7 linked regions of the Homo sapiens genome follow. The protein of the gene in region 6 purifies or fractionates together with the protein of the main gene of each other region. This does not show direct contact. Each region holds a gene or a part of one and is shown on either strand. Other genes may lie near its edges. The genes, in order: ETF1, PREX1, ZMYM3, NCAPG, RNF138, BZW1 and KDELR1.

Region 1 (3,500 bases), on a different chromosome or scaffold from region 6:
GTGTATATAAGCATCCTGAGGGCAAAAATCATTTTAGCACATAGTGGTGCTCAAACATTTGAAAAATGAATAAATGGCCAATTCCTACCATCATCTCTATATACTCTTTTTTAAGCAAACACCAGAGATTTATTCTAAACTACCAAATAAAATACCAATAAAAAAATCTGGCCGGGCACAGTGGCTCACGCCTGTAATCCCAGCACTTTGAGAGGCCGAGGCAGGCGGATCACGAGGTCAAGAGATCGAGACCATCCTGGCCAACATGGTGAAACCCTGTCTCTACTAAAAATACAAAACTTAGCTGGATGTGGTGGCACGCACCTGTAGTACCAGTTACTTGGGAGTCTGAGGCAGAAGAATCGCTTAAACCTGGGAGGCAGTGGTTGCGGTGAGCCAAGATCGCACCACTGCACTCCAGCCTGGAGACAGAGCAAGACTCCACCTCAAAAACAAAACAAAACAAAAACCAACAACAAATTGTCAGTCCTTGGAGAGGAACTAATGTGCCTTAAATTGACTAACTGTCCCCATCTTTCACTGCACCTAAAAGTTCAAACCATCATACTATATTAGGCGTTTACCTTAAGAAAACCAGCACTAAACAAAACCAACCCTTATGAAGTGTCATTTTAATTTTGTTGATCCTCACATTAATGCCACCCCACTCCCTCTGCTACTACCATCTATGAGGCATGTTAGGAGGTGGATGGGGCTGCCTTTTATAAAAGGTTTAGTTAGACTATCAAATTAGGAGGGATGATTCTGTTACCCTTCAAAGGGACTAGGAAAGTTACCTGAAATTAGTTTATGCAATTGACCTTAGAGTCAGATGCTATTACCAAATGGGAGAAATACCAAGACCGGAACTTACTGAGACATTACAGCAACCTCCACCCTAGGGTACAGAATAACTCAGATGTCCAAACATTTTCAGAATAAAGTTCACAAAGGTTCATTTTAGCTTTCTGTCCCCCAGAGAACAAAGATTTACTCAGTCATCTAAAACAAAAATGTACACATCTGGTAGAGTGTGTACACTTTTTCTACAATGATAGGCATTATTAGTCTTAAAAAGAAAAATTAAAAGATCTTCACAAACCCAGTGGAATATTCCACCAGGAAGCAGCTTTGAAGCTGGAAAATTTCTCTAGTGTTCTTACAACAGTGCAAAGCAAGAGACTGCAATCACAACCAGTGTTCGGGATTCATTACTTCACTACTTAGATCTTTCTAATATACGAATGAGCTCCTGGGGAGGGATTTTGCAACAAGTTATTTCTCTCTCCACTGATGCTCGTCAAGAATAAACATGTTCAGTATCCAAGTTCTTCCTAGGGTGGAAATAGCATGTCTGTTTTCTTTTAAATCTTTGCACCTGAGTCTCAGCACACCTGCTCCTCCTACTAAATTACAAATCTCCATGGACAAGAGTCTTCCTTTCAGAAGGGAATGGGAGACGTCTCTATTCAGCAAAAGAAATACTTGCCAAAGGGCAAGGTAGTGTTGTACAAATTAGCACCACAGGCTTTGAAATCAGAAAAGTGAGTACAGAATCTGGCACTGACCCTTACTAAAGGCTGTGATATTAGGCAGCTATTTACTCCCTGTATGTACTTTAATTTCTTCATCCATGAAATGGCAATAATAGCTTTCCTCACAGAGCTGTTATAAGGTTATAAGGGGGGGGGTCAAATGTATGCTTACTCATCCTCAGAAAACTAGTTTCTTTTTTTTTTTTTTTTTTGAGACAGAGTCTCCCTCTATAGCCCAGGCTGGTATTGGCTCACTGCAACTTCCGCCTCTTGGGTTCAAGCGATTCTCTTGCCTCAGCCTCCCGAGTAGCTGGGATTACAGGCATGTGCCAACACACCCAACTAATTTTTTTATTTTTAGTAGAGACAGGTTTTCACCATGTTGGCCAGGCTGGTCTTGAACTCCTTACCTCAGTGATCTACCTGCCTAGACCTCCCAAAGTACTGGGATTACAGGCATGAGCAACCATACCCAGCCAATGTTACCTTTTTTAAAGAAGAAGAAGAAAGCATTAGTTCCCCCATGAAGCAGATGGGGAAACTGAAGCCCATGGATGAATAATTGGCTTTTTTTTTTGAGACAGAGACTGGCTATGTTGCCCAGGCTGGAGTGCAGTGGCACGATCTCGGCTCACTGCAACCTCCTTTTAATAAAAGATGAATTTCGGCCAGGCGCGGTGGCTCACGCCTGTAATCCCAGCACTTTGGGAGGCCGAGGCGGGCGGATCACCTGAGGTCAGGAGTTCGAGACCAGCTTTGCCAACATGGCAAAACTCTGTCTCTACTAAAAAATGCAAAAATTAGCCGGCTGTGGTGGCGGGTGCCTGTAATCTCAGATACTTGGGAGGCTGAGGCAGGAGAATCGCTTGAACCTGGGAGGTGGAGGTTGCAGTGAGCTGAGATCACGCCACTGCACTCCAGCCTGGGCAAGAGAGCAAGACCGTCTCAAAAAAAAAAAAAGAAAAAATTAGCCAGGCTTGGTGGGACACACCTGTAATCCCAGCTACTCGGGAGGCTGAGCTGAACCTGGGAGGTGGAGGTTGCAGTAAGCTGAGATCGCACCACTGCACTCAAGCCTGGGCGGGAAAGCGAGACTCCGCCTCAAAAAAAAAAAAAAAAAAAAAAAAAAGACCTTAATCATCTGCTTATACTAAATCCCCTTCAACATGTACTGTGTTATTCTGTACTCACTAATATGGAGTTGAAAATGGTTTATATTATCATTCCATGGTTGTGTGGCAGATCATGTTTTCATTTTATTACATATTTCTTCCAAAATGTCTAGTGCCCAACTCACAGCAGATGTTTGGTGAAGCCCATTAGCTTACTGGTTAATAGTAAAAGTGCATTTCTGGCTTCATATTCATATACCCAGATGTGTATTTTGGAGGAAAATCTAGTTTATAAGGTCACAGACACAGCAGGAAAACAAAAAGAACCTTTTATTTTGACTATGATCATTCTTCTAAAGGAGATCTTAGAAGAACAAATGAAAATGTGAAAACAAGAGTACAAACTCAACATGCAGAGCTATCTGTATGATAAGAACCAGTTGCCAGGCACCTGAAAATGTCAAGTCCTCTGAACCTGAAAGGATTGTGAGAAGAGTAAAGAGAGTGGGCAAGGATGTGTGTCAAATGGCATAAGATAAAACCGTATCAGAGGGAGCTTCATCATACTCTCTGAGGACAGTACCCAGTGAGAAACCTCAGACTCTCAATTTCTAACCTGCCGGGGAAAAAAAGCCTGAACCTTCCTAATTCCTTCTCCCCCTCACTAAGATAGTAGGCTGCTGAAGAATTAAAAGACACCTACAGAATGTATCCTAGGAGAAGGTTCTATTCTGAGAGCCCTAGAGAATAGGCTGGACTGAGAAGTAATTTCTACTGTCCAGCCTCTTAGTTGAACAGATCCAGCAGTGGGAAGGCAAATTTCTCCTTCCTACTCTTCAAATAGGATCGAAGA
Region 2 (2,624 bases), on a different chromosome or scaffold from region 6:
ATGTGGTCAGCGCTCGGACTCCACGCCCAGACTGCCTGGGTTCAGAATCCCAGCTTTTCCATTTACTAGCTGTGTGACATTGGACAAGATACTTAACCTCTCTGTGCCTTAGCGTCCCCACCTGCCAAGTGGGGATGACAGCCGGACTTGGCTCACAGGGCAGCTGTTTGGATTAATGAGTCCACAGAGGGGAAGCAATTGGACAGTGCGTGGCACAGGGCAAAGGCCGTGAAGGTATTGAAAGGAACCACGTGCCACTCGTGAGACACAAACAAGGTGTGTGTGGAGCCCCCAGCGCCACAGCACGCACAGTGACTCTCGTCACCACTGGCAGCAGGTGTTGCCGGCGCTCTGTGGTTACGTAAGACGTTGCCGCTGGCGGGGAGCTGCCTGAAGGGTCCATGGAACTGTGGACTATTTTTACAACTTCTTGGGAGTCACATTATTTCAAAACAAGAGTTATTTAAAACTTGTGGGCAGATGACGACAGCAAACTAGGGCTGTGGAGATGGAGAGAGGATCAGACGGAAACAACGTCATGATCCTAAAGGGCCTACATGTGGCACCAAGAGGAAGACTGAAAACCACATGAAGAGAGGGCAGGGTGGGAGGACAGGAGGAAACAGCACTCCCCATGCCAAAGACGGCAGGAACAGAGAGCATTCCTGCAAATCAGGCATCGCAGGCCTGGGCCCAGGCTGCTGTTCAGTTCGCATTTCTGTAAATGGCTAAAAGGTTAGCTTAGGTTGGATCAGCTAAAATCACAGAATTCTTAATTCCACCCCAGGTTAAAGCGAGCCGCTCAGGGGTCAGGGACTCAGGGTAGGGGGCACGGGGTGGGGGGCACATGGCATGGGACACAGGGTGGAGGGCACGGGGCGGGGGCTCAGGGCTGAGAGGGCATGGGGCTGAGGGCACAGTGTAGTGAGGTGGGAGGATCTCATAGAGTCACCGCCTCACGGCACACCTGGGGGCTCATCTTCCCGGTGGGAGCAGGAGCTCCTTTGGGAGGTGACAAAGTTGTGTCTGTTGCTCCTCAAAGAGGTTCCCCATAAATGAGAGGGGAAGCCCCATCTGAGCATTAGGGGTTAGGCCAGGAGCATGATGCCAAAGCCAGGCCTGGGTCGCCAGCTGGGAGTGGACAGGAAGGGGCGGACGAGGCAGCCACTCACCGCGGAGCACCCTGGGGCATCTGGTCCTTGACTCGCAGGTTTTTGGCCAGAATCTCCACCCTTGGGCCCTGGAAGAAGGAACCATCAGGCAGGGGCCTCTGCAGGTTCAGGGCACGTGAGGAAGCACACTGGGGGGTGGGGGTGGGGCCCAGAAGCCCAAGGACCCAGAAGCTAAGATCCTTGCTCCCCTCCAGATTCAGAGAAGGCTCAGGTCTGGGGCTGGTGGCTACCAGCCCCTCATCCCACCCTGGCTGCAAGCATGCCACGCCCTCAGCCCAGGGTGCTGGAGGACCCTGTGGCCAAGCGGCCTCACCTGCTTCCGCATGATGTCCGTGGCCTGCATGATGCACTTGGGCAGCAACCCGTGGCTCCGTGCCAAGATGGCCGCCTGCTCCAGGGACACGCTCAGGGTGCTCCTGCAGCAGGGGAGGGAGGACAGCGGGTTGGCGGTGGGGGGACAGGGGTCGGGGGAGGACAGCGGGAGTCAGAGGACAGTGGGTGAGAGCTGGGGCAACTTCCTGTCCCTCCGAGGCCTCCCAGACCCAATCCTGACCATCACGGCAACGCCTCCTCCTGCCGTCCCTCCCCGCTTGCTCCTCTTCCTCCAGGCAGCCACCACCCTCACTGGCAGGCACTCTGGTGCTTCCCCGTCTGCAGAAGCCCTGTTGAGTTCCCTGTGACATTCCCAGTGCCTCGCTCAGAGGAGGACTCGGTAAATATCTGCTGAGTGAGTGGGGGACTCCCTGGGAGCCTCACGACTTGTCGGCTCCGTGGGGTTTGAGATGGACACATCGATTCACACCTCTCTGGGTTTCTCAACAGTTCTAGAACGTGGATTCTGCAGCAAGACCTCTAGGATTCCAATCCTGTCCCTCCATGTAACTCCTCTGTGACCCTGGGTAGCTGAGTTAACCTCAGCCTCCCTATACTATTAACTATGAAACAGGGAGCATGGTGGTGCACAGAGGACCTGGCCCAGCTGGAGGGGCTGTCCTGGGAACCACAGGAAGCTGAGCAGCATCCCGGCCTCTACCCACTAAAGGCCAGGAGCTCCTCCCTCCCCTAAGTTGTGACAACCAAAAATGTGTCCAGACATTGCCAAATGTTCCCCGGGGATAAAACTGCCCCTAGGTGAGATCCCCTAAAATAGGCCCCACTACTGCACTGGTAGAGAAAGACGGAAAGGAGTTAATCTGCATGGAACGTCAATGACCTAGGAGGCAGAGAGCACTGGCCCCGTGAAACATTTATTCAGCAAATGTTTCTTGAGCACCTGTCTCAGGCCAGGCACTGCTCTAGCCTCTGGGGAACAGCAGAGAACAAAAGGGGCCCCTGCCCTCCCAGATCCAGCCCTGCCCTGAGGGAGCCAAGGAGGAAATAAATACCCCAATGAAGGCTGTCTGGGGAGTGGGGGTGAGGGCTGCAGAGGAAGAGAGGGTTGGGAGGGCACTG
Region 3 (3,500 bases), on a different chromosome or scaffold from region 6:
TAATCTACAACTCCTCCCCATCTTCACAGGGCATCCTTAAGGGATCACACCCTTATCACTTCTAGACATCTTCAGCTGAATCACAGGCCCAGCCCCTTCTCCCCTTTCCCCTCCTCCTCCCTGTCCCTGCCTCCCCACACCCCCCATCCCCAAGTACTTACGGCCAAAGCGCAGCTCATCACCCTTGCTGGTTTCTCCATTGGCATATTTTGACTGCACCCAGCACTTCCAAGCATTGACACCATATGAATAGTTGAGCCCGGTACAACTAGGCTGACTGCTCATGGAGTCCCGGGAGCAGCTTTCGGAAAGCACCAGCCGCTTTTGACCCTGGAGGGGAAGAGAAAGCAGGGGCATGGCAGAGGTAAGGCCAGAGGCAAGGTGAAAGCTAGTCAGCACCATATTTACTGCTGGCCGGGGCAGGGGCTGATGTAAGCACACAGCAAGCTTCCATAGCACAGAGCCCCAGGAACAGCTTTGATGACCTTGTGAGATGGGGGGAGAGCAAAGTTTGGCTTTATCTCAGTACTTCTAGTGTTGGAGAAAGGAGGTTAGGGAAGGTCAAACTATGGTTGCTGGCTTGGCTCTCGCATCATCTCCCCTTTGGGCCTCCATTCTTCTTTTGTACATACAGTAGCCCCAGCCCTACCTTCCTCATGGTTCGGGGAAGGTCTTGTTCAGTAGACACATCCTCAGGCCCTACCAGGCCACAATCAAAGAGGAAGTCTACACTGGGATTAATGTCCAGAGGATCTAATGAAAAGGAAAGAAAGAAGAAATCAATTTCTTAAGATCTCAACCCTGCAGCCCTCCTGCCCCACCCCTGCTACTTGCCCACTTGACACTAGATGAGCCAAAGGAACCAGTAAAGCTATACCAAAAAGCATGCTCAGAGGCACAGAAACGCAAAACACAGCAATGTGAACTACTGAACCGTAAACATGTTGAACATGGTAAAATTTTATGTTTTTTTTCAGCTTAAAAATTAAAAAAAAAAAAAAAAAAAAAAAAGCATGACTCAGAAGTCTAAAAGAGTGCACCTGTCCTGGTGTCTCTGGCACTGCTCCCTGTGAGAACCTTCCGTCTTAGAATCACAATGAACACTTTTCAGGGTCATGCTCAGGGACACAAGGGACACTCCCTTCCTGATGGCACAAATGCTACCATACTCAGTGGGCATGGCTCCAATCTTACTCACTCTTAGGGAAGTCTGCCTCCAAGTCTTGCCCAGGCTCATCCAAGACATTGGCCATCTTGACTGCCATGGCCAGGACATCATCTCGAGCAGGCCCAAACAGGTCACAGTCTTCCAGGAGTCCCTCTGCACTCTGGTTGCTCACAAGATCTGGGAAGCAGAGAAGTTGGCTCAGTGGTTACAAGCTCCTGCTAGCACCCTCACAAGCTTTCAGGGACTGATCCCAACTATCCTCCCATTCTACTAGGCACCAAGATCACCAATACCACCCCCTCGGGCAGAGACATGCTGGTAGCACCCTGTCTCCCTCGTCGCCACCATCTATGGCATACCACAAAGGTCAGATGAGGCCTTGTCTAACTCCTCAGCCTCTGCAATCATTTCTGCCATAGCCAGGATGTCGGCCTCCAAGGGGTTGGAAGGGATCTTCACCTTCAGCTCCTCAATGGTCTCTACAATCTTGTCTGTGCTCTCCAAGGTAGTGGGCAAGAACATGGGCACAGGCACCTGGAGGCACGAATCCCAACTAAATGCCAAGAACCACACCAGCAGTTGGGGGGAAGTTGGGGGGACAGATGATGAGTGAAGGGGGACAGTTGATGAGAGTAAGGGGAAAGGAGGACCCAGCCAGGAAGGGCAGGGAAACTCACCGGGATAGGCATCGAGAAAGGCACCGGGACTTTCTGGCAGTACAGATGCATAGGCACTGGCACGAAGATGGGCACTGGGATGGGCAGCACGATCACCTGTGGCTTCCACTCTTCTGTGGATAAGAAAGGGGTCTTCTCAGAGACCCTGCTGGACTGGTCACATCTGACCCACCAAAAGCTCTAACATGCTCAGTGTCACAAAACTGCCCTTGAATCAAAGGCTGAAAGACACCTCTATGATTCTAGGACAACCATATGAATGAGGCTTCAGCTACCTAAGAAATCCCCTTGTCCAGCTCACGGACATAGGGCTGGCAGGCCTAGGACTCTGGAATACAGCCTGTGGCATCGAGGTACCCTGGCTCACCTGTTTGACTTCCTTTGGACTTCATCTCCACCTTGCAGGAGACGCCCCGATTCTGCATCAGTGGCTTACACATGGCAGCCTTGTTTTTGCGGGGTGTTGCTGGGGGTGGTGGGGGTGGAGGGGTGGGAGCAGTGGGAGCTGATCGGGTCTTCACAGGGATCTGCAAAGACAGAGGAACATTTGTGCCACCAACCGCCGTACCCTCCTCTGAGATTATCCTCCCCCTTGGCTTTTGCCCCGACCTTGCCCAAATTCCCATTTTCCTCTGGGGTCCTCACTGTGTTGCTGTTCTCCACTTTGGTTTGAGAGGGTGTCTGGGGTTTTGACTCAGGAGACTGACCTGTAGATCAAAACAAATGAATGCTCTCATCCAAGGGACTAGCTCTCCATTTTCCTTACCCCTGTTCCAGGAGAGCTTCATTAACAGGTACACCAAATACAGATGGGAACTTCTAGGATTTGACCCCCTTGCCATCCCAGATCTAGTCTCCTCTATGCCCCAGCAATAGCAGCCTAAAAGATTATTTGTTCCTGGAGAATGAAACATTACATTTTCCCCCAAAACCCACATTTGAGACCTTCCACTTAGATAGCCTGAAGAGTCTGTTATCCCTGGAGTTGTGGAGGGGCAGGGGTAACATTCTAGAAATAGCAGTCTTCAGTCTCACTAAATGTAGAGTTTATGCTGAGATTTCCTTATCTCAGAAACGTAACCATAACCCCTATATGCTCCATCCTACCAGGAAAGGCACCCACTCCCTAACAATATATATTTCATAGACAATCAGTAGATGCTAACTCCAAGAAGCTTTAAATAAGACTCCCCCGGTACCTGCAGGGTTCGGAAGCTAAAAGAGAATACAGTTCACAGTACTAGCACCCTATCTGGCCAGGGGTGAGCTGAACGCAAGAGGAAGGAGAAAGGGGCTAGGCTTAGGATTAGGAGAGTCCAGGCTCCCTCTAACAGAGTGTACCCCCTGCCTGGGACTCACTGTTCAGGAGGCTCTCGGGCCCACTCTGGGTATCCAGGTTGGGTTGGTTCTGCTGGCTATAGAAACGCAGAAGACACTGCTGGTTGCAGAAATGACGGATCTGCCCACGCCAGTGGATGGTCTCCAGCAGCTTCCCCTGGCGCTTACACGCATGGCACCGGGCAGCCTGAGGATGTCAAAAGGATGGTCAGACCTGCCTCCCTAAAATGCGTTGGGCCCTTTCTTTCCCCCGGGATAAGCCATGCTCCTCCCCTTGGAGATCGGGCCAGCTTAGAGATGGAAGGCTGGCTGCCCTC
Region 4 (3,387 bases), on a different chromosome or scaffold from region 6:
ACCTGACCCATGAGCAGTTGTAAAACAGGTGGATACCAACTACCTCGAAGCAAATTGGTGAAAGAAAAGGCAAAGGTATCTCTTAGAAGTAAATCTCCTTCAACGTTATATATGTACAGAAGAAAAAAAGTTGATCATAGCTTTTTGTCAAGTAGCATGTTTCCCATTCACAGGAAAATGTGAGCTTATCAGTTCTTTCTCTGTATTTTAAATCTAAGTCTGTGGGCTTTAAGAGCAATGGCACAATTGCATGTTTACTGTTCAGCAAATCTGTGCCTCTTGATAGAGAAAAATACTATGTGGTTTCTGTAAGTTACCAGTTTTGAATGAAAAATGGTAAATGGATTTACATCTGTTTTATTGTACCTTAGCCTTTTATTTTAAAGTTAAAGGGATGACTTTTAAAAGCAGGACATTCCCTACCTTTAATAGTGCAAAGCACAGTTTCAGCAATGGCTACATGACTATGTCTAAAAACTGAATACTCAGAATACTAAAGGTTTGGTGCTTAAATTTATTTTTCCCATGCCAGAGAAAGCAAGCTTTGGTATGGTAAACCACATGAGAACATGGCTCCTTTCTTTTTGGATAGCCTGGCCATGTGTGAATGGGATTTTAGCTTATTATGTTTCTAAGACTTTTCCTTACAGCACACTTAATGTACCTTTTCAGTCCTTCTCCCAACCCCCTGCAAATTGTCTTTAAAACAACAACACATAAGGAATCTGAAGCACAGGAGAACACAGAGCCAACAAACAGAATGAAGAACAATCATCTATTTTTAACTGACTTTCTATCATTACCATTTTTCCTTTTGCTTAATAACTATCTTGCTTTGAAACTTTGACTCCTTTTATAAGTTCTATGAGGCACATATGTATAGCAATTTGGTTCTAAAAACCAGTGATCTTACTTTAGCTCCATCTTAAAATTTCACCTTAAGTAAATGGCCTCTAGTAGATGATAAGCCTAAAAAAAGCACAATTATTAAAACAAACAGATCCATGTTAGGACATTTCTGAATAATAAAGAGAAAAGGTGTTTCGTTGGGTATTGCAGAAAAGAGGACCAATTTCATATAGTACAAGTTTCGTAAGTCAGGCCAAGTGTCAATTTCAAAAGACAAGAAATGAAATTGACAGTGAATAGTGCTCATAAATTGGTAGCGTATATAAAGAGAAGTTCCTGTCACATTATATTCCCACTAGAATTATTATCCACAGTAAATAAATATTATTTTGTTATGCCAAAAATATAGCGAGCAGCTTCATGGTTAATAATACATTTATGTTGACACCTCCCTAATCCAGGAAACATTCACAAACAAGGACTCCCATATACAAATACTTTAGGAAGAGAGATTTCCCAGGCAGATATCACCAAAAATGTTTTCACTGTAGGAATCACAAAATAAGTTTTTGTCAAAATAACTGTTGTTGAACGTTATACTGGTCTTCCTCACTGGTGATTGATAAGCTCCTTTCTAGCCAGTTTGTGGTACTTCCTTCATTTTCCCTAGAAATGTTACTTGTTAAATGTGTCCTCAGGCGGTTTCATCTTTGTTGATTCTGCCCATCTAAGTCATAAGCTTCTCAAATGCAAGCTACTAGCTAGTTACACTTGTAAGTTTTCCATAATGACATGATTTTAAACATAAAGAGTTCATAAGAATCACTTGGAGAGACTATTTAAAAATGAGATTCCTAGGCCCACCTCAGATTGTGATAAATCTGTGTGACTGACTGATGCACACTTTTTCTGGACTATAATAACTGATGCTGCTCTACTGCTTTAATACAGGCCAAAGTAACGTGGAAGCGCACAGCAGAAAATCTTCAGAAAGACATCAGGTTTGTTCTGATTTTGACAAGGGTAACTTCTTCTTTATTAAAGCAAATAACTGGACATAATCTTAAAGGATTCCACCTCCATCGTCTTTCCTAACTTAGATCTTCATTGAGAAATTGGGCAAGGTTAAGTTTACTTTTTTCTAGTGCTGCGGTTTTGGCTCGTCTTGGTAGTCTCATCTTCATTTCTGATTCTGGTTCTGGAACTTCATGATCACTAAATAGATGTTGAAAATACACGAATTTAGATACAAGCTTTAAAACCAGTTTATTTATAAATAAAACTTTTTTGTTTCTGACTCACATTCTATCAGTGTTTAATTGATAGCCTGATTCCATTGACTTAGCTTAAAACTAAAATCTCAATGTCAAAAAAACACTGACTTGGCTATCTAGCAAAGTGAATCAGGGAAAATCTAGCTAATGATTTTATATACTATAACAGAACCTGGTGTTATACAGGAAAAAAAGCCACAAACTTGTAATGAAGCTTGTAATTAAACGAGGACCATAACTGTCCAAAAGAGATTTCTTTGAAACTCAAGAAGTGACAAAAAAATTAAGTTCTCTCTCTTGATTTAAGCAATAAATTCCAAAAACATAGTAAAAAACAAGTTTCCCCCCAAAAAAGACAAATTTAATCAACAGTGTAAAACTATGTACTGAAAATACACACAATACAATTTTGCAAATGAATACAAGACAGCTACCAACTTTCAGCTCTAACAGTGGCTTGACTGACAGAAGCCAAAAATAAAACACTCTACCACACAATATACCCAAATTATAGACAGAATTATTCTATCAGTATGTAAGTGTAGAGAACCCAAATATTATCAAAATCAAGAGTTTGCTAACTGAAGATCAAAGAGGAGTCACATCATGTAATTAAAAATTGAAACAACATATTAAAGATAGTACTAAAGACCATGCCAGCTAATAGGCAAAAGCAAACACGCCGTAAGAAGTCAAATGCTCTTGATGATGGAATTTTAGACTATATACCTAAGACAGCTATTTATAGTTTTCACTATCTTGTTATATATTCTCTCTCATTCGCAAGAAAATTAGTTTTTTTCTACTTGTAGAAATAAAAAGTGAAGATAGGCCTCCATATATTCTAGACATGCATGACATACCTTTCAGAGTCGGCTTCAGCAGTCTGACACCTCCTGTTCGTCCTAGCTGAAACTGTCACTTTTCTCTGTCCTTGAAGATAGTATAATTCATTATCAGGATTTATTATCAGTTGCTTTTTGTTTTTAATCTAGTTTCTAGGCTAACTAAATCCTTTGTCTTCAACACAACAATCCTTTCAACACATGTATCTCCTACTTGTTCTAGCCATCTTGGTACCAGTTATCACTGCCACAGAAAAAGGAACCCAAGCAAGATTAAAACTTAATTTATTTTGTAAGCACTAATAATGAGTAAGGGAAAATAAGGAAATTTCAAGCAAGTTAAAAGAAGGCAAATTTTAGTTCAATGTATTTGAGGACAGTATATGAAAAATGTGTTATAATGAAGTACCTCTATTATT
Region 5 (3,500 bases), on a different chromosome or scaffold from region 6:
GGAAAAATGCATGCAGCCTTGCTAGCAACTAAAGAAATACATTTTAATGTGACTTCTAGACACCACTATGAACTGTATTAAAATAGCATAAAAATGCTTAAAAAAACAAAATTGGCAAAGATGATGGATTACAAATATACTTTTATAGTACTAATGGCATTTTGTAAATTAGCTCAATTTTTGGGAAAGCAACATGACATTTATGAAAATAGCAGTTAACACTTATTGCGTACATAATATGTGCTAGGTGCTAGGCTGGATCCCAGAAACTATCCATTCATGATCTTGAATTCTTAAAAAAAAATAAATTTTTCTTAATAAGTTCCTTCATTTTACAGATGAGGAAACTAAGGCTTAAAAAAATAAAATGTTAATAAACCTGTAAGAGTGAGGCAGGCAAATCACTTGAGGTCAGGAGTTCAAGACCAATCTGGCCAACATGGTGAAACCCTGACTCTAATTTAAAAATATATATATATACACAAAAATTAGCCAGGAGTGGTGGTGCACGCCTGTAATCCCAGCTACTCAGAAGACTGAGGTAGAAGAATGGCTTGAACCTAGGAGGCGGAGGTTACAGTGAGCCAAGACTGCGTGTGCCACTGCACTCCAGCCTGGACAACAGAGCCAGACTCTGTCTTTGAAAAAAAAAAAAAAAAGAAACCTATAAGAGGTTGAAGCCCAGAAGATGTTTCTGTCATTCAAATACAAAGCCCTGCATGTTCCCTCCTACCTCGGGACCTTTGTCCAGAATGTTTCTTCTCCCCAGAATGTTCTATGCACGAGCACAGCCCTCCACAAATTAATACCTATATCTCTCTTAGATATCAGCAACAATATCACTTCCTAAAGAAAGGGTCATCGATACTCACCCACTAGATCTGATCCCTCTCTTATACTCTCTCGAAACCTATACATTTGTAATTACACCATTTTTCTGAGCATTTATTTTAATTTAAATATATCTCAGGCCAGGCGCAGTGGCTCAGGCCTGTGATCCCAGCACTCTGGGAGGCCAAGGCGAGCAGATCGCTTGAGCTCAGGCATTCGAGACCAGCCCGGCCAACATGGTGAAACCCAGTCTATACAAAAAATACAGGCCGGGCGCGGGGGCTCACGCCTGTAATCCCAACACTTTGGTAGGCCGAGGTGGGTGGATCACCTGAGGTTGGGAGTTCGAGACCAGCCTGACCAACATGGTGAAACCCCCGTCTCTATTAAAAATACAAAATTAGCCAGGCCTGGTGGCGCATGCCTTTAATCCCAGCTACTTGGGAGGCTGAGGCAGGAAAATCGCTTAAACCCGGGAGACGGAGGTTGCAGTGAGCCGAGATCGCGCCATTGCACTCCAGCCTGGCCAACAAGAGCAAAACTCCGTCTCAAAAAAAAAAAAAAAAAAAAAAAAGTTAGTTGGGTGTGGTGGTGGCACATGCCTGTAGTCCCAGCTACTGGGAAGGCTAAAGGGGGATTACTTGAGCCCAGAGAGGTCAAGGCTGCAGTGAGCCATGATCATGCCACTGCACTCTAGCCTGGGCAACAGAGCAACAGAGAAAGACCCTGTCTCAAATATATATATAAAATAATAAAATAGAGGTATTCAGGTCTCTTATGTCCAATTTTACTGTTCCTTCCCCTGTACAACCAAAGATTTTATATATATATATATATATATCTCAATCACTAACACCCAGCTCCAAGAGGGCAGGGATCCTATCTATTTGCTCTTTACAATATCCCTGGCACCTAACAGTGCTAGGCACCTATTAGGCAGTCCTAATATTTGCTAAAGCAATGAATGCCAATTTACCTTAATTTAAAAAGTATTAAATCCCTTAACCAAAAGATATAATTGACAGTTCTCAAATCAAAACCTTGAGCACTTTCCATGAACAAGACACTTCACTAGAGCTGCAATTATTCTTGTGTGATGTATCAGAAATATTTGTTTGTATCTACCCTTTGACCCAGCAATTCCATTTGTCAGAATTTAGCTGGCAGGAAAAACTCTCATATGTGAAACGATATATTAGTAGGCTTAAGTAAGTAACAGGAGATCTTGGATGCTTTCTTTATAAAGCTTGCAGCCTAACCAGTGAAACTGACATTGGTCAAATTATCTGATTCCAAAAATGTTATGATTACAAACTGTGATAACAGGTACAAAGAATGGCCGGGTGCAGTGGCTCACACCTGTAATCCTAGCACTTTGGGAGGCCGAGGCGGGGCAGATCATTTGGGGTCAGGAGTTGGAGACCAGCCTGACCAACATGGTGCAACACCATCTCTACTAAAAATACAAAAAAATTAGCCGGGTATAGTGGTGCATGCCTGTAGTTCCAGCTACACGGGAGATTGGGGCAGGAGAATCTCTTGAACCCAATGGGTGGAGGTTGCGGTGAGCCAAGACTGCACCACTGCACTCCAGTCTGGGCAACAGAGCGAGATTTTGTCTAAAAATAAAATAAAATAGAGATATTCAGGTCTCTTATCTCCAATTTTACTGTTCCTTCCTCTGTACAACCAAGCATGTTTCTTCAGACATAAAACGAATTATTCTCATCTCACTTTGGGCTGGAATGGATCAAAGTGCTAGACAGAACTTATTTCAAAACAAAGCAGAAGTAGGAAGGAAAAAGGTACAAATCAAGAATTACTAAAACTAATTTTCATGTTCCTGAAAAGGCCCGTATCTTCAGAACAGGGCATTACCCTATAACCAAAAAAGGTCTCTTTACATTTCTCTCAACTTTAAACTAGCAGATGCTAGACGAATTTCCATTACGCATTCTCCCAACAAAAGGCTAATCAACAACACTGGGAGAGGAAAAACAATATTCCCACTCATCATGCTCCCAATTTCAGTATAAATTAAATAATTTAAAATCTGGCACTTAGTCTATCTATTTTCCGAGTCGATAATCGAGATCATTCCCCAAAAAAACTTCAAAAAAAAAAAAAATCAAAGGTTGTAAACTAGTCCTCAAGATTTAAAATTAAGTAAATCTTTTTTTTTTTTTTTTTGAAACGGAGTCTCACTCTGTCGCCCGGGCTGGAGTGCAGTGGCACCATCTCAGCTCACTGCAAGCTCCACCTCCCGGGTTCATGCCATTCTCCTGCCTCAGCCTCCCGAACAGCTGGGATTACAGGCGCCTGCCGCCACACCCGGCTAATTTTTTTGTATTTTTAGTAGAGACAGGGTTTCACTGTGTTAGCCAGGATGGTCTCGATCTCCTGACCTTGTGATCCGCCTGCCTCGGCCTCCCAAAGTGCTGGGATGACAGGCGTGAGCCACTGCGCCCGGCCTCAACCTTTATTATATAATTAAATAGCACAGATTTTAGGAAAGAAGAAAATTATTTTAAAGTATATACTTAGAGCATAACTACTCAAGTAACAAGATACCAATAAAGCTGTTAAAATTACAAAGCCAGGTGCTGTGGCACTCACCTGTAGTCCCCACTACTCAGGAGGCTCAGGTGGGAGGACTGCTTGAGACCAGG
Region 6 (3,500 bases):
TTAGTAGAGACTGGGTTTCCCATGTTGTCCAGGCTGGCCTCATACTCCTGGCCTCAAATGACCTGATCGCCTCAGCCTCCCAAAGTGCTAGGATTACAGGCGTGAGCCACCACACCCAGCCTCCATGTAACTTTGAAGCTGTTAACGAATTTTATTAATAACCTATTTACATGAGGCAGATATTCAAAAGCATTCACTTGGAAATCCCAACATTTGGCTGGGTGCAATCACATCTGCAATCCCTGTACTTTGTGAGGCTGAGGCAGGAAGGTTGTTTGAGCCCAGGAGTTCAAGACCAGCATCGGCAACATAGTGAGACTCTGTCTCTATATTTTTAATTAAAAAAAAAAAGAAAAGAAATCCACAAATTTATAAACATTAAATATTCTCAAAATTTTCCATTTCATGAAGAACATTTACTATTATGGCTGAGCCATAAATATACTATAATAATTAAACTCTAGCTTTCGCCACCTGCCTTATAACAAAAATCTCTACTCCAGGTACAAAATGGCATCAGAAAGAAGGAAGCATGTGTGAAGATATATTATGGCCACATTAAAATTAGCTTTACCAAACAAACCACACAAAGGAAAATCCTTACCTTCTTCAGCATTTTTGAGCCATTCTACAAACTTTTTCATTTGCTCAAGGAAAACACTCTTCCCCTTTGCAACATGTGCATCTTTATACCACTTCAAAATGGGCTCCTCGCTCAGGACTTCAGCTGGAAAGAAAACTCATTGCATTAAGGGAGTTTTAATATACTCTACTCAGCGTTAGAACCACCACCTAATGTGCAAATGCCTGCTTAGCAAACAAACTGCTGAAAAGCTAAAAACATCCATGAGAAATGGAAGATAATAATACATGTGCGCATACCAACTACACTCAACGGGATCAAGACTGGTCTGATTAGTGCAGAATTTCAAAGTGTTATGACCAACTGCAATGGATTTTCTCCCAACAGAGGTCTTGTCTTTACTAGCCACTTTAGACCAGGTTTCTAAAATTGGGATCAGGAGAAAAGGGAACAATATAACTGAAATTGGGGTTGCTATAGAAGCACTCTGAACTGGTCTTGAAGGACTACGGAAAGTCAACACTGGGTGGGGGAGTAAGATGAACAGAAGCAGGATTCACACAGGCTGAAGACTCCAGAGCTATGACTACATAGCTAAGACTACAGACTGTCTGGAAAAGGGACTTGGGGATTTTTTTTTTTTGAAACAGGGTCTCACTTGTTGCCTAGGCTGCTGGAGTGCAGTGGCACAATCATGGTTCACTGCAGCCTTGACCTCCTAGGCTCAAGTGATCCTCCTACCTCAGCCTTCTGAGTTGCTGGGACTACAGGCTTGCGCCACCATTCCCTGCCTAATTTTTTATTTTTTTTGTAGAGATGAGGTCTCCTTATGCAGTCCAGGCCGGTCTTGAACTCTTGGGCTCAAGCGATCCTCCAGCCTCAGGCTCCCAAAGTGTTGGGGTCACAAGTATGAGCCACCACACCTAGCTGAACTTTGGGAATGTATACCTGGTTAAGAGTATAGGAGGCAAGTTTGAGGACGCATAATGATGGCTTTAGATTTCATACTTCAACTTGTGAATAGGGTTTAGATGTTTTAAACAAGTATCAGTGCACTAAAAAGCACCCAATTTAATCAGAGGTGACTCATAACTAGAAGTAAAATATTTCAGGGAGCTGATGTCCAGATAACTCATCATTTGGATAATTTTGTGTTTATAAGGGTTTTTATTAAGTGTTATTTACAAAATTCAAAATCTAAATTACCTTTATAAAAAAGCACCACTATTTTCTGGAAGGCTTTCATGAAATGAATGTTGTCATAGCAATACTCCTGAATCTTCAGTAACAGAGTCAGCTCAGACTGACCTTGAGTAGTAAAGGCAGCAAGTAGAGGGCTGTATTGCTTTTAAAGGAACAGAGAAAAGATTTAGTCATTCATTACAAATAACCATCCATTACAAAACTCCTACAATACAGACAATATAGAACTTAACTCATCTTTTATAATCACTGCAAACTATAACTTATTTACCAGAAATTTAAAAAATAGGCTGGGCACAGTGGCTCACGTCTGTAATCCCAGCACTTTGGGAGGCCGAGGCGGGTGGATCACTTGAGGTCAGGAGTTCGAGACCAGCCTGGCCAATATGGTAAAAGCTCGTCTCTACTAAAAATACAAAAATTAGCCAGGCACTACTTGGGAGGCCGAGGAGGCAGAACTGCTTGAACCCAGGAGATGGAGGCTGCAGTGAGCTGAGATCACATCACTGCACTCCAGCCTGGGTGACAGAGTGAGACTGTCTCAAGAGAAAAAAAAAAAAGCAGAAAATCTAAGTAGCTAAGTAAAATAAACAATACTATACCAAGTAGTCCAAGTAAATGTCAAACAATATTAGTATTTTAGAGGGGGGGAAAAATTCCTATTTTCCAATACCCCCTTCAAAAGCAAACATCTAATTACAAGCTGAAGTTCCTTTTCATCATGTTCTTTTTTTTGAGGCAGGATCTCACCCTGTCACCCAGGCTTTGTCTGACAAAGCCATCATAAGCTCACTGCAGTCTTGATCTCCAGGGCTCAAGAGATCCTCTGCCTCAGCCTCCTGAGTAGTTGGGACTACAGGCATGCGCCACCACGACTGGCTATTTTTTGTGATTTTTAGTAGAGATGAGGTCTCACTATGTTGCCCAGGCACGTCTTAAACTGAGCTCAAGCAATCCTCCTGCCCTTGCCTCCCAAAGTGCTGGGTTTACAGGCGTGAGCCATTGTGCCTGGCCAGGCCATATTCTTGTTTTTAACCTGTGAACCACAGCCCAATTCAGAGCATTATCATCAATAGCTAATGTTACTATTTGTTTATTTACTGGTGGGCCATCCCTAGGAACCACAGGATGTGATAAATCCTCTTAGAAAAATATAGTCACAGTTCACTTATCACCACGTGAAAGCAGAATAGTTTGTTTTGTCAAGGCATAGTTCTAATACCTTCAAGTGCTTGATGGCTTGCTCTGCTACAAGCTCCTCTTTTTTGTTCCATTCCACAGTGCTCATTACACTTGACCAGACTATTCCGATGACAACTGGCTCTGGGATGTTGTTTTTTTTCATCTCCTCCTTGACATATAAAATTATCTGCAAATGAATCCAAATTTAGTAACAGAAGTCAGTTTTGATTATGTACATACTTCACACATCAAGTTTAGACCTTTAACAAAAACTAACAACTCCTTTTCCATGCAACTGGCAACCACATGTGTACCACATATAAAAAGAGACCTTTACAACTGAAAGGTGCCCTGAGCTCCAGTCTCTTGTATTTCTGGGCCTCAGTCAGGCACTGAAGAAGCATATGCAAAAGAATGAGGCAAAGTTCCAGTATAACATCCTGTTACTATTAACTCAATCTCATCCTGGTGAAGTAAGTTCCTCAAATTAGTGAAAATCTCTATGCCAGAAGCTTAGCCATAAAAAGACGGT
Region 7 (3,238 bases), on a different chromosome or scaffold from region 6:
GGGACCCTCCCTGGCCATCCTTCCCCCAGGACTGTCACATCACCCCATCTTATCTCCTTCCTGGCCACTCGCACCAGCAATTGAGCTCTGTGAGGGCTGGGATCCTACTTCTTGTTCACCCCGTGGCCCTAGCACCTAGCACAGTTCCTGAATGAGTGAGGAAATGGGAGTTAGCATCTATAAAGGGGTCCCCATGTGCTCAGCACAGGCCACCATTTAGGGAGCACTGACAACCATCATTCATGAGCAGGACAGGACATCATGGGACAGGGAAGAAGACATCTGCCAGCCCCCTTTCAGTCCCCAGCTCCCTGAAAGTGCCACCTGGGGTGATCTGTGATCTGCAGACACACTGAAACCTCAGAGAGCAAAGCCAGGTGGCAGGTGTGGCTCCTTGGTTGTCTTGGTTTGTGGAAGGAAGGTGGGGGGCACCAGGACCTATTCATAACAACTCATGCTTTTCTAGCATTTACGACATCCAAGGCATCGCTCCTTAGGGTGTTAACTGGCCTGAGCCTTAACCCCATGAGGTAGGTACTGTTGTCATTCCCATTCTACAGATGAGGAAACTGAGGCCCAAAGGATAAGAAACGTGTCCAGATTCCCACTGAAGCACGTAGAGTCCAGGACCTGCTCCCAGAATCATCCAGAATCCTCCAGGGAGGCTCTCGTGAAGCCAGGTTAGTTGATGCTGCTGGGAAACGAACCCATTAAATTGATGCCCATTCAACTCTCACCCCTGGGGTTGCCCTTAGGGAACAGAGTCACCGTTTAAAGAGAGACAGAAGGTCTGTTGCTTTTTTTTTTTTTTTTTCCTGAGGCCGAGTTTCACTCTTGTCACCCAGGCTGGAGTGCAGTGGCGCGATCTCGGCTCACTGCAAACCTCCACCTCACGGGTTCAAGTGATTCTCCTGCCTTAACCTCCCAAGTGGCTGGAATTATAGGCACTCACCACCACGCCCTGCTAATTTTTGTATTTTTTTAGTAAAGACAGGGTTTCACCATGTTGGCCAGGCTGGTCTTGAACTCCTCACCTCAAGTGATCCACCCACCTCACCCTCCCAAAGTGCTGGGATCACAGGCGTGAGCCACTGCGCCCAGTCTTGCATTTTTATCTATTCCATGCTGTTTGAATTTTTTTTTTTTTTTTTTGAGATGGCGTCTTGCTCTGTCACCCAGGCTGGAGTACAGTAGCACGATCTCAGCTCACTGCAACCTCTGCTGCCCGGGTTCAAGTGATTCTCCTGCCTCAGCTTCCCGAGTAGCTGGGATTACAGGTGCATGCCACCATGCCCGGCTAATTTTTGTATTTTTAATAGACAGGGGGTTTCAGCATCTTGGCCAGGCTGGTCTTGAACCCCTGACCTCGTGATCCACGATCCACCTGTCTCAGCCTCCCAAAGTGCTGGGATTCAGGCGTGAGCCACTGCGCCCAGCCTGATGTCTGAATTTTTAAAGAATATTTTCCTTAGGTCAGGCACGGCAGCTCACACCTGTAATCCCAGCACTTTGGAAGGCTGAGGCAGGTGGATCACTTGAGGCCAGGAGTTCAAGATCACCCTGGTCAACATAGCAAAACCCTGTCTCTCCTAAAAATACAAAAAAATTTTACCTGGGTGTGGTGGCTCATGCCTGTAATCCCAGCTACTCGGGACGCTGAGGCACGAGAATTGCTTGAACCTGGGAGGCAGAGGTTGCAGTGAGCAGAGATCGTGCCACTGCACTCCAGTCTGGGTGACACAGCAAGACTTAAAAAAAAAAAAAAAAAAAAGACGCCTGGGTTCTGGTCTGGCCTCCTCCACCTTCAGCAAGCCGCACTACCTCCCTCAGCCTCAGTCTCCCCATCTTCAAAATGGGTCTAGTAATCCCTAGTCAACAGGGCAGTTATGAGCTAAGTCAAGGGCTTGGATAAGTGATCCAAGCAAGGTGGTAACAATATGTTTGCAAAGTCCAGGGCCTGGAGCCAAGCCCAGGATTCCCACCACAGCATGATGCAGCCTCCCTCTGATATCTCTGACCCATGGGCCAAAGTCACCCTCTGTTGGATTTGTCTGGCCTATACAGTGCTTTTAGAGATATGTTTTGAAGGCCAGGCACGGTGGCTCATGCCTGTAATCCTAGCACTTTGGGAAGCTGAGATGGGAGAATTGCTTAAGACCAGGAGTTCAAGACCAGCCTGTCAACATGGTGAAACCCCATCTCTACTAGAAACACAAAAATTAGCCAGGCGTGGTGGCAAGCACCTGTAATCCCAGCTACTCGGGAGGCTGAGGCAGGAGAAACGCTTGACCTGGGAGGCAGAGGTTGCAGTGAGCCAAGATCGTGCCACTGCACTCCAGCCTGGGCGACAGAATGAGAGTCCATCTCAAAAAAGAAAAAAAAAAAAAAAAAAGAAATATAGTCTGAATCTGTGGCTAAAATTTTAAAATGAGACATCTTGCCTGAAAACTCCTGAATTATGGCTTCTGTTGAAAAGATCAGCACATCTGGCCACCCAGGCCTATCTTCCTATAAGGCAGGAGTGGGCACAGGTAAGAAAAGGTTACCCTGAATTTATGATTCCTGCCAGGCCCCAGGAGGCAAGAGATCGCAAACTTAGCACTGGCTCTCGCAAAATTCCTCCCAGGAGTTTGTACAGGTCCCAGCAAAACACCATGGAATAAAAATCATTAACAGCGAACATTTAAAAGTAAAAGTATCAGAGATGGGACTAAACACTTCAGTCATTGAACATTGATTGACACAGCACTTCCTACCTCATCCCAGATACTGTGCTTTATTAATACCAACCTCTCATTTGAACCCTATGACATAGGAACTGATTATCTCCATTTTACAGATGAGGAAACTGAGGCACAGGGTAGTTATGTGATTTGCCCAGAATCCCATAGCTGCTACATGGTAGAGGCAGGGTCCAAATCCTTACACTCTGATTCTAGAGTCTTTATGTGTTTTGACACCAGGCAGTGCTGCAAAGTCTCAGTAAATTCTCACAATGACCTGATCACAACTTTACAAATGTGGAAACCGAGGTACAGAGAGGTCAAGTCACATGCACGGGATCATGCTAATAGAAACTAGCAGATTTGGAGCCGGGCGCGGTGGCTCATGCCTGTAATCCCAGCACTTTGGGAGGCTGAGGAGAGTGGATCACCTGAGGTCAGGAATTCGAGACCAGCCTGGCCAATATGTTGAAACCCTGTCTCTACTAAAAATACAAAAAATAACCTGGCTTGGT

The links.
Region 1: the proteins of BZW1 (region 6) and ETF1 fractionate together in Homo sapiens (co-fractionation; one large-scale study listed by BioGRID). This does not show direct contact.
Region 2: the proteins of BZW1 (region 6) and PREX1 purify together in Homo sapiens (affinity purification with mass spectrometry; one large-scale study listed by BioGRID and IntAct). This does not show direct contact.
Region 3: the proteins of BZW1 (region 6) and ZMYM3 fractionate together in Homo sapiens (co-fractionation; one large-scale study listed by BioGRID). This does not show direct contact.
Region 4: the proteins of BZW1 (region 6) and NCAPG fractionate together in Homo sapiens (co-fractionation; one large-scale study listed by BioGRID). This does not show direct contact.
Region 5: the proteins of BZW1 (region 6) and RNF138 purify together in Homo sapiens (affinity purification with mass spectrometry; 3 studies listed by BioGRID and IntAct, with this or other methods). This does not show direct contact.
Region 7: the proteins of BZW1 (region 6) and KDELR1 purify together in Homo sapiens (affinity purification with mass spectrometry; one large-scale study listed by BioGRID and IntAct). This does not show direct contact.

Annotation. Positions count from the first base shown.
Region 1 is NC_000005.10:138,533,237-138,536,736, forward strand, and holds part of ETF1 (eukaryotic peptide chain release factor subunit 1), read right to left. Parts: intron 1-3,500. UniProt on the Homo sapiens protein: Component of the eRF1-eRF3-GTP ternary complex, a ternary complex that mediates translation termination in response to the termination codons. The eRF1-eRF3-GTP complex binds to a stop codon in the ribosomal A-site.
Region 2 is NC_000020.11:48,626,376-48,628,999, forward strand, and holds part of PREX1 (phosphatidylinositol 3,4,5-trisphosphate-dependent Rac exchanger 1 protein), read right to left. Parts: intron 1,589-2,624; coding exon 1,486-1,588; intron 1,241-1,485; coding exon 1,173-1,240; intron 1-1,172.
Region 3 is NC_000023.11:71,244,141-71,247,640, forward strand, and holds part of ZMYM3 (zinc finger MYM-type protein 3), read right to left. Parts: intron 3,371-3,500; coding exon 3,205-3,370; intron 2,553-3,204; coding exon 2,455-2,552; intron 2,373-2,454; coding exon 2,213-2,372; intron 1,959-2,212; coding exon 1,846-1,958; intron 1,703-1,845; coding exon 1,528-1,702; intron 1,346-1,527; coding exon 1,199-1,345; intron 754-1,198; coding exon 650-753; intron 331-649; coding exon 162-330; intron 1-161. UniProt on the Homo sapiens protein: Plays a role in the regulation of cell morphology and cytoskeletal organization.
Region 4 is NC_000004.12:17,841,979-17,845,365, reverse strand, and holds the end of NCAPG (condensin complex subunit 3), read right to left. Parts: exon of another isoform or gene 3,057-3,387; coding exon 2,987-3,056; exon of another isoform or gene 2,065-2,986; coding exon 1,941-2,064; 3' UTR 501-1,940; downstream 1-500. UniProt on the Homo sapiens protein: Regulatory subunit of the condensin complex, a complex required for conversion of interphase chromatin into mitotic-like condense chromosomes.
Region 5 is NC_000018.10:32,098,374-32,101,873, reverse strand, and holds part of RNF138 (E3 ubiquitin-protein ligase RNF138), read right to left. Parts: intron 1-3,500. UniProt on the Homo sapiens protein: E3 ubiquitin-protein ligase involved in DNA damage response by promoting DNA resection and homologous recombination.
Region 6 is NC_000002.12:200,818,410-200,821,909, reverse strand, and holds part of BZW1 (eIF5-mimic protein 2), read right to left. Parts: intron 3,156-3,500; coding exon 3,009-3,155; intron 1,929-3,008; coding exon 1,790-1,928; intron 728-1,789; coding exon 605-727; intron 1-604. UniProt on the Homo sapiens protein: Translation initiation regulator which represses repeat-associated non-AUG (RAN) initiated translation probably by acting as a competitive inhibitor of eukaryotic translation initiation factor 5 (EIF5) function.
Region 7 is NC_000019.10:48,385,314-48,388,551, forward strand, and holds part of KDELR1 (ER lumen protein-retaining receptor 1), read right to left. Parts: intron 1-3,238. UniProt on the Homo sapiens protein: Receptor for the C-terminal sequence motif K-D-E-L that is present on endoplasmic reticulum resident proteins and that mediates their recycling from the Golgi back to the endoplasmic reticulum.